Regions from separate parts of the Homo sapiens genome. Here region 2 is linked to region 1. Evidence: fine-mapped expression QTL. Tissue or cell type: whole blood. Region 1 holds a variant in brackets; the other region holds the start of a gene. All regions are shown on one strand. Distances are from middle to middle.

Region 1 (5,936 bases):
GCAACCTGCCATCACACCTTGAAGGCCTGTTGGGGCCAGGCCCTGTGGTAGATGCCCTGGATATCCAGGTTACTAGGATACCACACTCTCTCACTTCTCTCGAGCTCGCAGTTGATGGAGACACAGCCATAAGAGCAAGTAAAAGCAATAGCATGATAGGTAACAGACGTCTGAAGGGCTTACCACAGGTCCCACTGGTCCCAGCCTCTTAGTATTGGAGGAGAGATTGCTGGGGGAGCCAGCAGTCGCTAAGTGGGAAGGAAGGGGGCTCCAGCATCAGAATCAAGGGCTCTGACAGCTGACGCTTGATGCTCACCACCTTCCAGGTGAAATGCCTGGGATGAGCCTGTGGAGGAGGCTGGGGCAGGGGAAGTCTTTCCTCTGCTGGATAAAGGAAATGTTAGGGTCTTCCCAGTTCCTGGCCATGCTAGACTCTTCCCATCTGGAGCTGCAGAGGGTCTGCACTTTGGGGTTGTAATTCAGGTTGAAGTGTAAATGGGAGAGGTGGGGAAGGAGGATTGAATGCCTTGCATGAGAAGCATTTCCAGCTGCTGACTGAGGTGGGCAGACTAGACTGATGGGCCCCCTGGCTGTGGCCCTCCAGTCCTGACCTGGTGTCCGTGTTTCTGCCAGGACCAAGATTTAGGGCTCTGGCATCTTCTCTGGGGGAGACAGGAGCCTCAGCAAAATGAGCTGGGATTTCAGGAGGGGCCACTTCCCCTTTCCCTTCCCAGAAGGAGTGGCCAGAGCACAGGCCTGGCCTTGAGGAACCACTGGCCTGGGCGGAGGTCTGAGGTTAGCTCTGGAGTGAGGCTGAGGGCAGGGTTATCTGGAGACGGGGCCGTGTCTTAGGGGTGTGTGGGAGGAGGAGGGACACAGCTAATGAGAAGCAGGTGGAAGGGCTGCTCATGCCCCAGGCAGGGGACAGGCTGGCTGGGATGGCCCAGTAAGTAGGAGGACCTGTCACCTCACAGACAATCCCACAAAACAGGCTCCGGGATACCCATTCATATTCATTATATGTGAAGTGGGCGGTTGTAAAGTTAGCTTTCTCTTCATTTAGCTGTCACTGGACAGAAAAATATGAGCTGTGGGCAGATGCCCCTGGATGAGAGCCAGTAGCCAGTCTCTGGCCTCTCTGTGCCCTCCCCTAGGAGCCCCCGACCCCGCCATGGGTCCCCTCCTGGCCTCTGCCAGCCTCTCCCACTCTTGCTTCATTGACCTCTGGCTCACCTTTATTTTTTCTCCTGTCTCTTCCCACTTCTGGTTTCTTTGTTTGGGTTTATCACAGATCCTTTCCTCTTCCCTCCTTTCATATTTCTAAGCCCTCTCAAGAGAGAAGAATCATATTTTTCCTCAACCATCGCTCTATCTCTGGCACCCAGCACATTGCCAGGCTGAGTTGGCACTCAAAAATGTTTGTAGAACAAACTACTCTCTCTATACATCTTTCTGACTTGGTGGGGAAGAAGGTCCAAAACTTTGCTGATGACTCCTTGGATGAAGAAACTTCTCATACAGTGGTGTGAGCCCTGGAGTCAGAATGGTTGGCTTGAGCCCCAATTTCATTACTGCCTGGCCAGGTGAAGGAGATTCTGTTCATCAGTGGCAGCCAGGGATGTCTCTCCTTCCTACCCTGACTCTCCTCTTTCTGCTGGGTCCCCTCCCGGATACAGGGCTCACACCTGTGGACCTCAGAGCCAGCGTCAAGACCAAGAGGAAAGAAATCACCAAAAGCCAGACCCTTGTATAGAGGGAAGGGGAAGGAAGGGAGGGAAGACAGACTCCTCTGGGGATACATGCGACTGTCTTGGCTGGGAAATCTGATCTGGTGGGGGACTCACCCCCTCCTCTCGAATCAGCTCAGCCCTGATGTGTCTTTGTGGGCTTGGGTTTCTCTGTGCCTGAAAGATGAGGCGTGGGGTGGGGGTGGCCGGGCTGCTGGTTGAGGCTGAATTCTTCTGAGCAATGTGGTTGTGTTTACTGGGAGGGTGGGAGGGCCAGACCTTTTTCCTGCCTTCCAGGCTTCGGAGATAAGGCAGAAAGTGAGGATGAAGGATAGAATGGGTAATACTCTGAAACCACAAGAAAGAGTTCTGGCTTTTGTCTCTGCCCCACAGCTCAGACATTTCCTGGGGCATCTGGAAGGAAGCTGACCCACTCCCACCACCCTGGGGTCCCAGCCCATGGGGAGCACAGAACCTCAGTGGGCACCCCTTTCTTCCATTCTACCTCCTTTCCATTGTCAGTTTAGCCACAAAATTATTTTAGCTTTTTTACTGCCAGTCCCACCCTCAGTTTTCCCTGCCACATGAGCCCAGCCCTAGAGCTGAGCTTTTCTCCCTGCCTCCCAGCACAGCCAAAGCCACAGAGACCCTAGGCAGGTGACAGAGCCCAGCCTGGCATGCATCGGCCTTGAGGGCTCTGCTGCAGGACCACCTTCCCCTTCCTTGCTGGCCTCTCAGGGGTCGTGGCCAGCCTGCATCCTGGACACAGACCAGCCCCAAAGCAACCAGTGCCAAGCCCTGGGGATAGACAGTCACCTGGTATAAAAAACACCACCACCTTTATTAGAATGCTGGGCAGCCTTTTTTTTCTCTCTCTCTCCTTTTTTTTTTTTTTAAACAAAAAAAACACAAAAGTGTCTGTACAAAAATGGGGATCAGGATCTCAGTCTGTAGAAATCTGTTTTATTCTTACCAACATCCAATATCATTTCCATGGCATAGCTCTGGGCTGGTCCCGTGGAAGAGATTCCAAATATGTGGTGATTTCTGGTGGAATTTCTGCCCCCTTGGAGGGGAAGATGACTGCATGGCATGCTGGGAGTGCAGGCACATGGCAGGAGTGAGGGTGGCTGGAGCTGAGGAGCCAGTGTGCCTCAGTCTATGCTGACCTTGGCCTTTACACCCTCCTTAGTGTCAGACACCAGTGCGCCCCCTGCTGGTGGGGAGGGGAAGCAGGGCTGACTCCACCCCATCATGGGAGACTCCCTTTTGGTTTCCATCTCATCATGAAGAGCTTCAGTCCACGCGGCGTTCTCCTCCCATTTTCCTGGGTTCCCTGAACGATGAGCCAAGTAAGCTGTCTTAGCTGGA[G/C]AGATGACAATGGACTTGGACAAAGTCTGGAGGAAGCAGGGCAGTGTCTCCCTGCCTCCAGCCCAGAGTTCAGGTGAGGGGACTCAGTTTGTGGTAGGAAGAGTCCTGGCTGCTTCGAAGCCCCTTCTCCTAGGCAGCCCCACCTTGTTCTAAGAGAAAAGACCCTGTAACGTGTTCCCTGCTGGGGGCTGACAGTGCCAGCTGCTCTCGCAGCCTCCAGAACCATCTGGGGCTTGGAGGCAGAGGTGGGCTGGGAGCGACTGGGAATGGAAAAAGAGGTGGGCAGCTCATTCTGCAGGTCCATGCAACCGATCACGTGGTCCAGTTCAGAAGGCCGGGTGGCTCCTTGGGCTTTACCCTGAGCGAGACGAGGCTTGGAGACTTATAGTCACCATCTGAGGAAGGCTCAAAGCTGTGGCCCCCCAGGGTGGGGGGAAAGCCATGGATGGAGTAGATGCCAGGGTGAGCCGCAGAAGGGGCTGGCACCCCCATGAAGCCAGCCACACTCCCATGGGGGTGGGAATATGGAGACATGCATGGGGAGGGGATGCCCTCTGGAGACACAAGGCAGGGGCCTCCAGGGCTCCCAGATCCTGGACTGGCCCACAGGGAGTTCTGCAGCTGAAAAGAGAGGGAAAGAAGGCCCATGAGCCTGTAGCCTCAGGAGCTGACTTCCCTACCCAGGGGCTTTCTCTTTGTCCTTGGGGCCCCAGAAACTTTCCAGGAAACCTCCACTTGGCTCAGATCTACCCCCTCTCACCCCCAACACTGGCAGTGGCATCTCAGGAGGCCCCTGCCACTGTTCTCAAAACGAAATTTTCTTCTGTGATTCCTTTGTGTTCCGCATGCGTCATTCATGAGACAGGCAAGAGCCCCGGTTTGCAGAGAAAGAAGTGAAGTGGTGTACCCACTGTCATACAGAACGCTGACGCTCTCCAGGTTTCTTCAGGCCAGACCTCATATTCTTTTTGGTGACCCTGCCAGGTCCTGGTTCAGGTAGGGCTGGGGTCTTACCTGAGGGTGGCTGTCAGTACGGGGCAGCACAGAGATGTCATAGGCAGCCGTGAAGGGGTTCCGCCCCTCCTGGATCTTCCCATAACGCTCGCGCTTCCGCCACTTGGCTCTGCGGTTCTGGAACCAGACCTGGGGGCAGGTTGTGGGGGTTTGAGGGGGTGATAGGGCAGCCCTGAGGAAAGGAGCCTGCTAGGGAGAGCTGATGGTTGTGTCCTCTTGTGGGATGGGGAGCAGGCTCCAGGATGGAGGATCTCAACTGTTAATCCACACTGTTCTCCAGGCCAGGGAAGCCTGGGAGGAAGCCTGGGAGAGGCCCAAGCCCACAGTGGGTAATTGGCCCCATGGGCCTCCAGCTGTCACTCCCCAGGTTGAATCACTGTGGTCCTCCAGCCTGGCTGTGTCTAGTAAGGGTGTTGTGGGGGCATCTGTGGGCCTCAGGGGCCCTAGGTACTTCCTGGGTATACTGTGTACATGTGTTGGGTTTCTAGTCTCCCTGCCTCATCTCCTTTTCCAGGCTACCCACCTCATAGCATCCGAGGAATCTTAGACATTTCTGTTCAGGTCATGGTCCTGTTTAAACCCTCAGTGACTCCCTGGAGACCTTGGTCCAGAGCATAGCTTCTTAACAAGGCCCCTGCCTCTCTGCACAGCCTCATATCCTGCCAGGCAAACACATTTATTCTTCTGGTTGCCTCCCAAGCTCCCGCCCAGCTCTTCTGAAACACTGCTATCTTGCTCCTTCCATCTTTTGCTTAGGTTTTCTCTTCCTGGGCTACTCATCCCCTCAACACATACATCCACACTGGGCATCCTCCACAGGACTTCCAAAATACCCTGGACCTCTCTTTGTACTCACCCCATTCCATTACCATGATCTGTTTTGGAATCTGTTTCTCCCATTTATTTGTGAGCCCTTGGCAGATAGGGGTGGCACATCTGTGTGTTGTGCACATCTGTGTACATATCTGTGATGAATTCGTTGTTTGGTATATGTGCTGTGACTGTTACATTTAACTGTATTGGTATATATGTTTTGTATTTCTATCATTTAATCAACATTTATGTGTCAGCCTCTAAGCTAAATTTAACAATGTCAAAATAAAACCAACCAAACAAAACAACCCCTGCTTTCCAGGGATATCTAGCTGGGAGTCACAACAGAAGAAAGCTGTGTGTGTGTGTGTGTGTGTGTGTGTGTGTGTGTGTGTGTGGAGTAATCCGTCTACCCCAGCTGGGATCAGGCTTCCTGCCCCCATGGTCATTCCTACACATGCAGGCAGGTAAGGCACCAACAGTGAAGGGGCTGTGCATACCCCATCCCCCTAGCTCCCAGATTGCCAAGATAAGAAAGCAGGCCTGCAGCAAGGTCAGCAAAAGGCCACCCCCACCTGCCCAGCTGCCTGGATTTCCTTTCTCTGCTCTCCCTCCCCTGACAGAGGATGAGGGAGCTTACAGCCAGTGAATCTGGCTATTGGAACTCACTTTTCTGTCACCACCCATTCTCCCTTGGGGATCCCGCTGTAGGCCTCCCCTGGGCTCTGGACCTGCCCTCTGCATTATCTGGTGTGTAGTCTCATTCTTCCTCTCCATAGGGCAGGGTGTATGGGTGGGTTTCACACCCCTGCCAGAGAAAACATTCCTACTCCAGGGTCTCCATCCTTCAGGAAGCTTCTAGACTAGGGGTGAGGGCCTCATGGCTACTCCTGCACCCTCTCAGGTTGAAAAGGCCTAGGAGAGGAGCAGAGGAAGTGCTCTCCACCTCCCACAAACACTTGCTTTGGGAAGAGCTGGTTAGACCACACCCCGGAGGCCTGCTGAGGTGAC
Region 2 (5,468 bases), 26 kb before region 1:
CAGAGCAAGTCCATAGGGTAAAGTGAAAGTAAGTTTATTATGAAAGTGAAGGTATAAAAGAATGGCTGCTCCACAGGCAGAGCAGCTCCGAGGGCTGCTGGTTGCCCATTTTTATGCTTATTTCTTGATTATATGCTAAACAACGGGTGGATTATTCATGCCTCCCCCTTTTAGACCATCTGGGATAACATTCTGGTGTTGCCATGGCATTTGTAAACTGTCATGGTGCTGGTGGGAGTGTAAAAGTGAGGAGGACAAGAGGTCACTCTCATCACCATATTGATTTTGGTGGGTTTGGGCTGGCTTCTTTACTGCAAACTGTTTTGTCAGCAGGTTCTTTATGACCTGTATCTTGTGCTGACCTCGTATCTCATCCTGTGACTAAGAATGCTCTAATATCCTGGGAATGCAGCCCAGTAGGTCTCAGCCTCATTTTACCCAGCCCCTGTTCAAGATGGAGTTGCTGTGGTTCACACATCTCTGACAAAAATACAGGTGGGATTATTCTCATTTTACAGATGGGGAAGGAAAAAAAAAAGAGAAGTGCATGAAGACACTTCTACAGCTTCTACTCTCTACTGGATTGTGCTTTTCGCAAAGTTTCCTAGCAAGTTAGAGTAGTGAGCTCTCCAGCTGTGCTTCTGCTCCTTCACATTTGGGATTCTTTTTCCTTCTAGATCTGTATATTCTGTCTTATGCATGCCCCATTCCATTAGTTAGCCATTTTTCTTTTTCAAAAATTTTTTTAATTTGATTTTTTTTTTTTTTTTTAGAGATAGGGTCTCGCTCTGTTGCCCAGGCTGGTCTCAAATTCCTGGGCTCAAACGATCCTCCCACCTCAACTTCCCAAAGTGCTGAGATTACAGGCATGAGCCACGGTGCCTGGCCCCTCAAAGTTAGCCATTTTCTTATTGGCTATTTTTCAAATTAGGTTGATCCCAACTTTACACTATTGAAAACACCATTGCCTGAATATTATCATACACCTATCTTTATCTAAATCTGATTATTTCCTTAGAATCTATTACTAGAAGTGGAATTATGGAACCAAAACCCTCCCTGTTCTAAATTTAGCTGAAAAATGTTTTTCCCCGGGTGATACAGCTTATGATAGGCACAGGAAGATAGGTAGGAGGAAATAGCAGTGTGGTGGTTTTGGATTAATTTATTAATTTACAACAAAGACTTTTTAAGCACCTACTAGGTTGGACCTCAGGGGAAATCACTGGAGAGTTGTATCACAGGGACTTTCTGGACTTGAGCCTGGGGTGTAAAGCAGGCAATATGTAAAGCTGGAGAGACAAAGATGGATAAAATGCCTTTAAGGATTTCACAGTATAACAACAGATAATAGTAAGAGTTATTATTACGCAACACTTCTAAGATGTCTGATGAGTATCTCAAACTTGATGTGTCCAAAACTGAAGTCTTGATCTTTCCTCTAAACCTGTTTTTCTTACTCTCGAGCTTACTTATTTATGAAAGTGATACAGCCATCCACTCAGTTGCCCAAACCTAGATCAAGGGGGTCATTGTTTATTTCCCCTACCCAGCTGATAAGATTCCAGCAAATCCTGTCCCCCTACCTACACAATATAGAAATATCAACCCAATGCTCCACTCTGGTACAAGCACCATCATCTCCATCTACATGGTCCCCTAACATGTCTTGCCTTATCCACTCTTGCAACTCTCCAATCCCTTCTCCAAAAGCAGCCAGATTGAACTTGTAAACATCACACCATAACATCTCCCTGGTTAACACCCTCGAATGGTTTTCCATTTCACTTAGAATAAAATTCAAACTCCTTCCCACTACCTTCAAGGCCCTGCATTCTTCTGGTCCCTGCATTATCATTATATGGCTCTATCAATTACTATCCCTCCCTTGGCTCACTCAATTCCAGACACTAACATCAGGGCTTTTGCATTTAGCTGTTTCATCTGTCTGTGTGCCCTTCCTGGAACTTTGCAGGGCTTCTCCTCACTTCTTTCAGAACTCATCTAAAATCACACCCTCAGGCCTGCCTTCCTTGGGCAGCATGCTTATATTATAGCCACATTCTCCGCCTCCACCAACCCCTGCCCCCCGCCCCACTGCCACCTTTTAACCTCTCAATTTTTGTTACTTCTGACAAAGATTCTCTTCTTTGGCCAAAACTCTAGTCAGGCTCCTGTGAGTCCTCTGCCTACTAGGACTAACCGTTTGGGCTTCCTTTCTGTCCTTGTTGAATCCAGTTTGTGCAGGGACTCTCCACTCTTGGCGTCTTAATCCATTTTTTGTTGCTATAACAGAATACAAAACACTGGGTAATTCATAAAGGAAAGAAAGTTATTTTTTGCAGTTCTGGAGTCTGGGGAGCCCAAAGTCGAGGGGTTGCATTTGGTGAGGGCTTTCTTAAACTGCATGGTAGAGAGCCTCTCACGGTGAGAAAGCAAGAGCATGTGTGCCAGCTCAGATCACTCTTCCTCTTCTTATAAAGCCACCAGTCCCATCACAGGGGCCCTACCCTGACGATTTTATCTAATCCTAATCACCCCCTCAAGGCTCCACCTCCAAATACCATCAACATATGAACTTTAGGATTGAGTTTCCAACGTATGGAATTTGGGGGACACAGTCAAACCATAGCACTCGGTATCTGACCACCCTCAACATCTTAGCACCCTGTCCTGCTTTCAGCAATAATCCTGTTAGGTCAGTTTAGCAAGAAACTTCTTATCCTTGATGTTTCTCTTAGTAGTTTTCCGTCCACTGACCCTCATCCTGCTCTTTGGTTATAAATCCCCACTATATCTTGTTGGAGTCAGAGTTGAGTCTAATTCCTCTTCTTCACTGCAAGATCTGGTTGTAGTGGTCCCTGTAACTATCACCATGGGCTCTCTTACATAAAGTCTGCCTTACCATCTTTAATTAGTGCCATGAACAAATTTTCCTTTAACACTTTTCAGCATTTATTTCTCTATATTTGTCTATTGTTTGTCTGACCCACCAAGCACTGTTATGTACCGTGACTGCAGACACTTGTTCCTCATTTTATCCCACTGCTTGGTGCACAGGAGACATTTATTAAATGTTTGTTGAATGAATGAATGACAAGCACTTGTCACAACGGTAACTCTGTGAAGACTAGGATCCTATCCATTTTGTTCATTACAAAATTCCGCCTAAGCCTTGAACAAGGCTATGAGTTATAAGTGCAAAGCGATTTAGAGGAAGGAGGGGTAACTAAACTGACTGAAGAAGCTAAGGGAAGCCTCACAGATAAAATTACATCTAAACTGAAACTGAAAGGAAGGTGGAAAACTAAAAAGATCAACAAGGGAAGGACTGCAGACAGAATATCGCGAGGTATTGGTCAGCCAAGATGGCTTCTAACACTGGCCGCCACACTTAATATGGCGGCCAGGGAAATTTCCTGGAGAAAATCACGCGAGAGTTGCATCACGGCGGCTGTGCGCGAGTTAAGCTGGGGGTGTGGAGCAGCCAAGATGGAGCCGGCAGTCGGCGGTCCGGGCCCACTGATCGTGAACAACAAACAGCCCCAGCCCCCGCCACCTCCGCCGCCGGCAGCCGCACAGCCACCACCCGGGGCACCGCGGGCCGCCGCGGGCCTCCTGCCTGGGGGCAAAGCCCGCGAGTTCAACCGCAACCAGCGCAAAGACTCAGAGGTCAGGAGCTTCGGGGGGCGAGGCTCGCACCGGGTCGGGCGGCGCCGGGGGTCCCGGGCCCGGGGCCACTCTAGGGGCCAGGTTGGGCTTCCCGGAGGGCTCGGTAGAGTCCGGCCGAGAACTGTCACTATACAGCGAAAGGAGCAGGAAGCGAGGCTGGCAGCTCCTGGGGTCTGGAGCATGAGTCCTTGCTCTAGCTCCGCCGCCCGGGAGAGCTTCCCGTGGCCGGCGACTGCTGGTTTGCTCCCCTGGGCCCCGACTGTGGGCGTGGCCTCGAGGCCCTAGCCCCTGGGGAAGCCGCTCTCGCCCCAGCTCGGGGGTGAGGAGTCGGGGGTCTTGGTGCACTCCAGGGCGCTGGGCTGCCGCGCCCCCAACCTAATCATCTCGGGCGTCTGTCCCTGGCACGCGGGCTCCAGCTCCTGGGTCCTGCCGCTCGCAGAGGAAGGCGCGTGTGGGCAGGGAAGGCGCCGGCGAGGATCTGGAAGGAACTTAGAGCCGGACCGAGCTAATTATCATTGAGAGTAGAGTAGGAGGGGGAAACATGTCCTGTTCTTCTGACCTGAGCCAGATCAGGCCATGGGTTAACAGTACCTGTGGTGGGCTATTGTGCCCAGTGCGCCTGATACTGAACTGTTAAAGATGAGAAATAGACATTTTAAGCATGCGTTAGGACCCAACATTCCTTCCTGTCTCGCTAGTGAGCCGTTCCTGCCGTTCTGGAGATGGCATAGTCTGGAACTGACTAGTAACCTCACCCCAAGTTAAGGAATTCCTCCCACTGCCTCCTTTTGCAGAATTCATGAATGAAGATACTCATGTCGCGGAGTTTTAGGGCTTCTTAATGAGCAGGTTCCCAGAGCACTTACTATGCCATCTCCTAGATTGATCAGCAGCCAAACTGATCAGCCAAGTTAATGAGAGGGAATTCCTAGTTGTCCAAGCATAATGTACCAATTCATACCAAAGAGCAATGATACTACCTTTAGACCTGTGGAATCAGTTCCTCAGAAGCTTTTATTTTTTGTTAGCAAGGCTAAACCCCTGAGAAAACATGTCAACAATTGGCAAGCCCGAAGTAGACGTAATTTGAGCTTGGAGTGAATTATTTGAAAAAAACAAAAACACTGACCATTTAGGAGCCCTGGCATGGTGGGATGACGGACATCAGTGTTAACTACTCAGTTTTTCAAGTGGAAGATTACGAAAGTGCAGGGGGGTGAACCTACCTTCATCATGAGAGGAGTTATCATTTTGAAAAATGGTTTAAAATTTTCCAGAGTAGCTACGAATGGTCAAATAGATACCCTCTGACGAATTGTAATTTCTCTTTGTACCCTTTAATTTCCACATAGAGGCCGGGTGCAGTGGCTCACGCCTGTAATCCCAGCACTTGGGGAGGCCGAGGCGGGCGGATCACCTGAGGTCAGGAGTTCCTGTCCAGCCTGGCCAATGTGATCAAACCCTGTCTCTACTAAAAATACAAAAATTAGCCGGGCGTGGTGGCTGGTGCCTGTAATCCCAGCTACTCAGGAGCCTGAGACAGGAGAATTGCTTGAACCTGGGAGGTGGAGATTTGCAGTGAGCCGAGATTGCACCATTGCACTCCAGCCTGGGTGACAAGAGCGAAACTCTCCCCGTCTCAAAAAAAAAAATTTCCTCATAGACTCATTACATGAAAGACCAGTCAAATGGACACATTTAAGCAGAGACCTGTCTAAATCCATTTCTTTATAGAGAGTCTGATGCCATGATCTTTCTTTAGTCATAGCTGAAATCGGTAGTTTGGGAGCCTGATC

The links. PIP is the estimated chance that this variant, and not a neighbour inherited with it, causes the effect.
Region 2: it holds the start of STRIP1, and the variant in region 1 is fine-mapped to the expression of STRIP1 in whole blood (TOPMed, PIP above 0.99).

The regions. Positions count from the first base shown.
Region 1 is chr1:110,057,323-110,063,258 of GRCh38, forward strand. It overlaps ALX3 (ALX homeobox 3), which reads right to left. Exons shown (of 4, transcript NM_006492.3): 3 at 4,113-4,241; 4 at 2,548-3,719. The coding sequence ends at 3,411. Among named protein-coding and RNA genes, the nearest start is that of ALX3, 10 kb to the right of the region's middle. The variant G/C (reference allele first, on the strand shown) is at 3,099.
Region 2 is chr1:110,031,146-110,036,613 of GRCh38, forward strand. STRIP1 (striatin interacting protein 1) reads left to right here and starts at 3,479. Exons shown (of 21, transcript NM_033088.4): 1 at 3,479-3,672. The coding sequence starts at 3,493. LOC105378895 (a long non-coding RNA gene) reads right to left here and starts at 4,294. Exons shown (of 3, transcript XR_947693.3): 1 at 4,264-4,294; 2 at 2,204-2,286; 3 at 1,151-1,292. RefSeq lists enhancers at 2-141, 3,154-3,543 and silencers at 3,544-3,763, 4,004-4,073.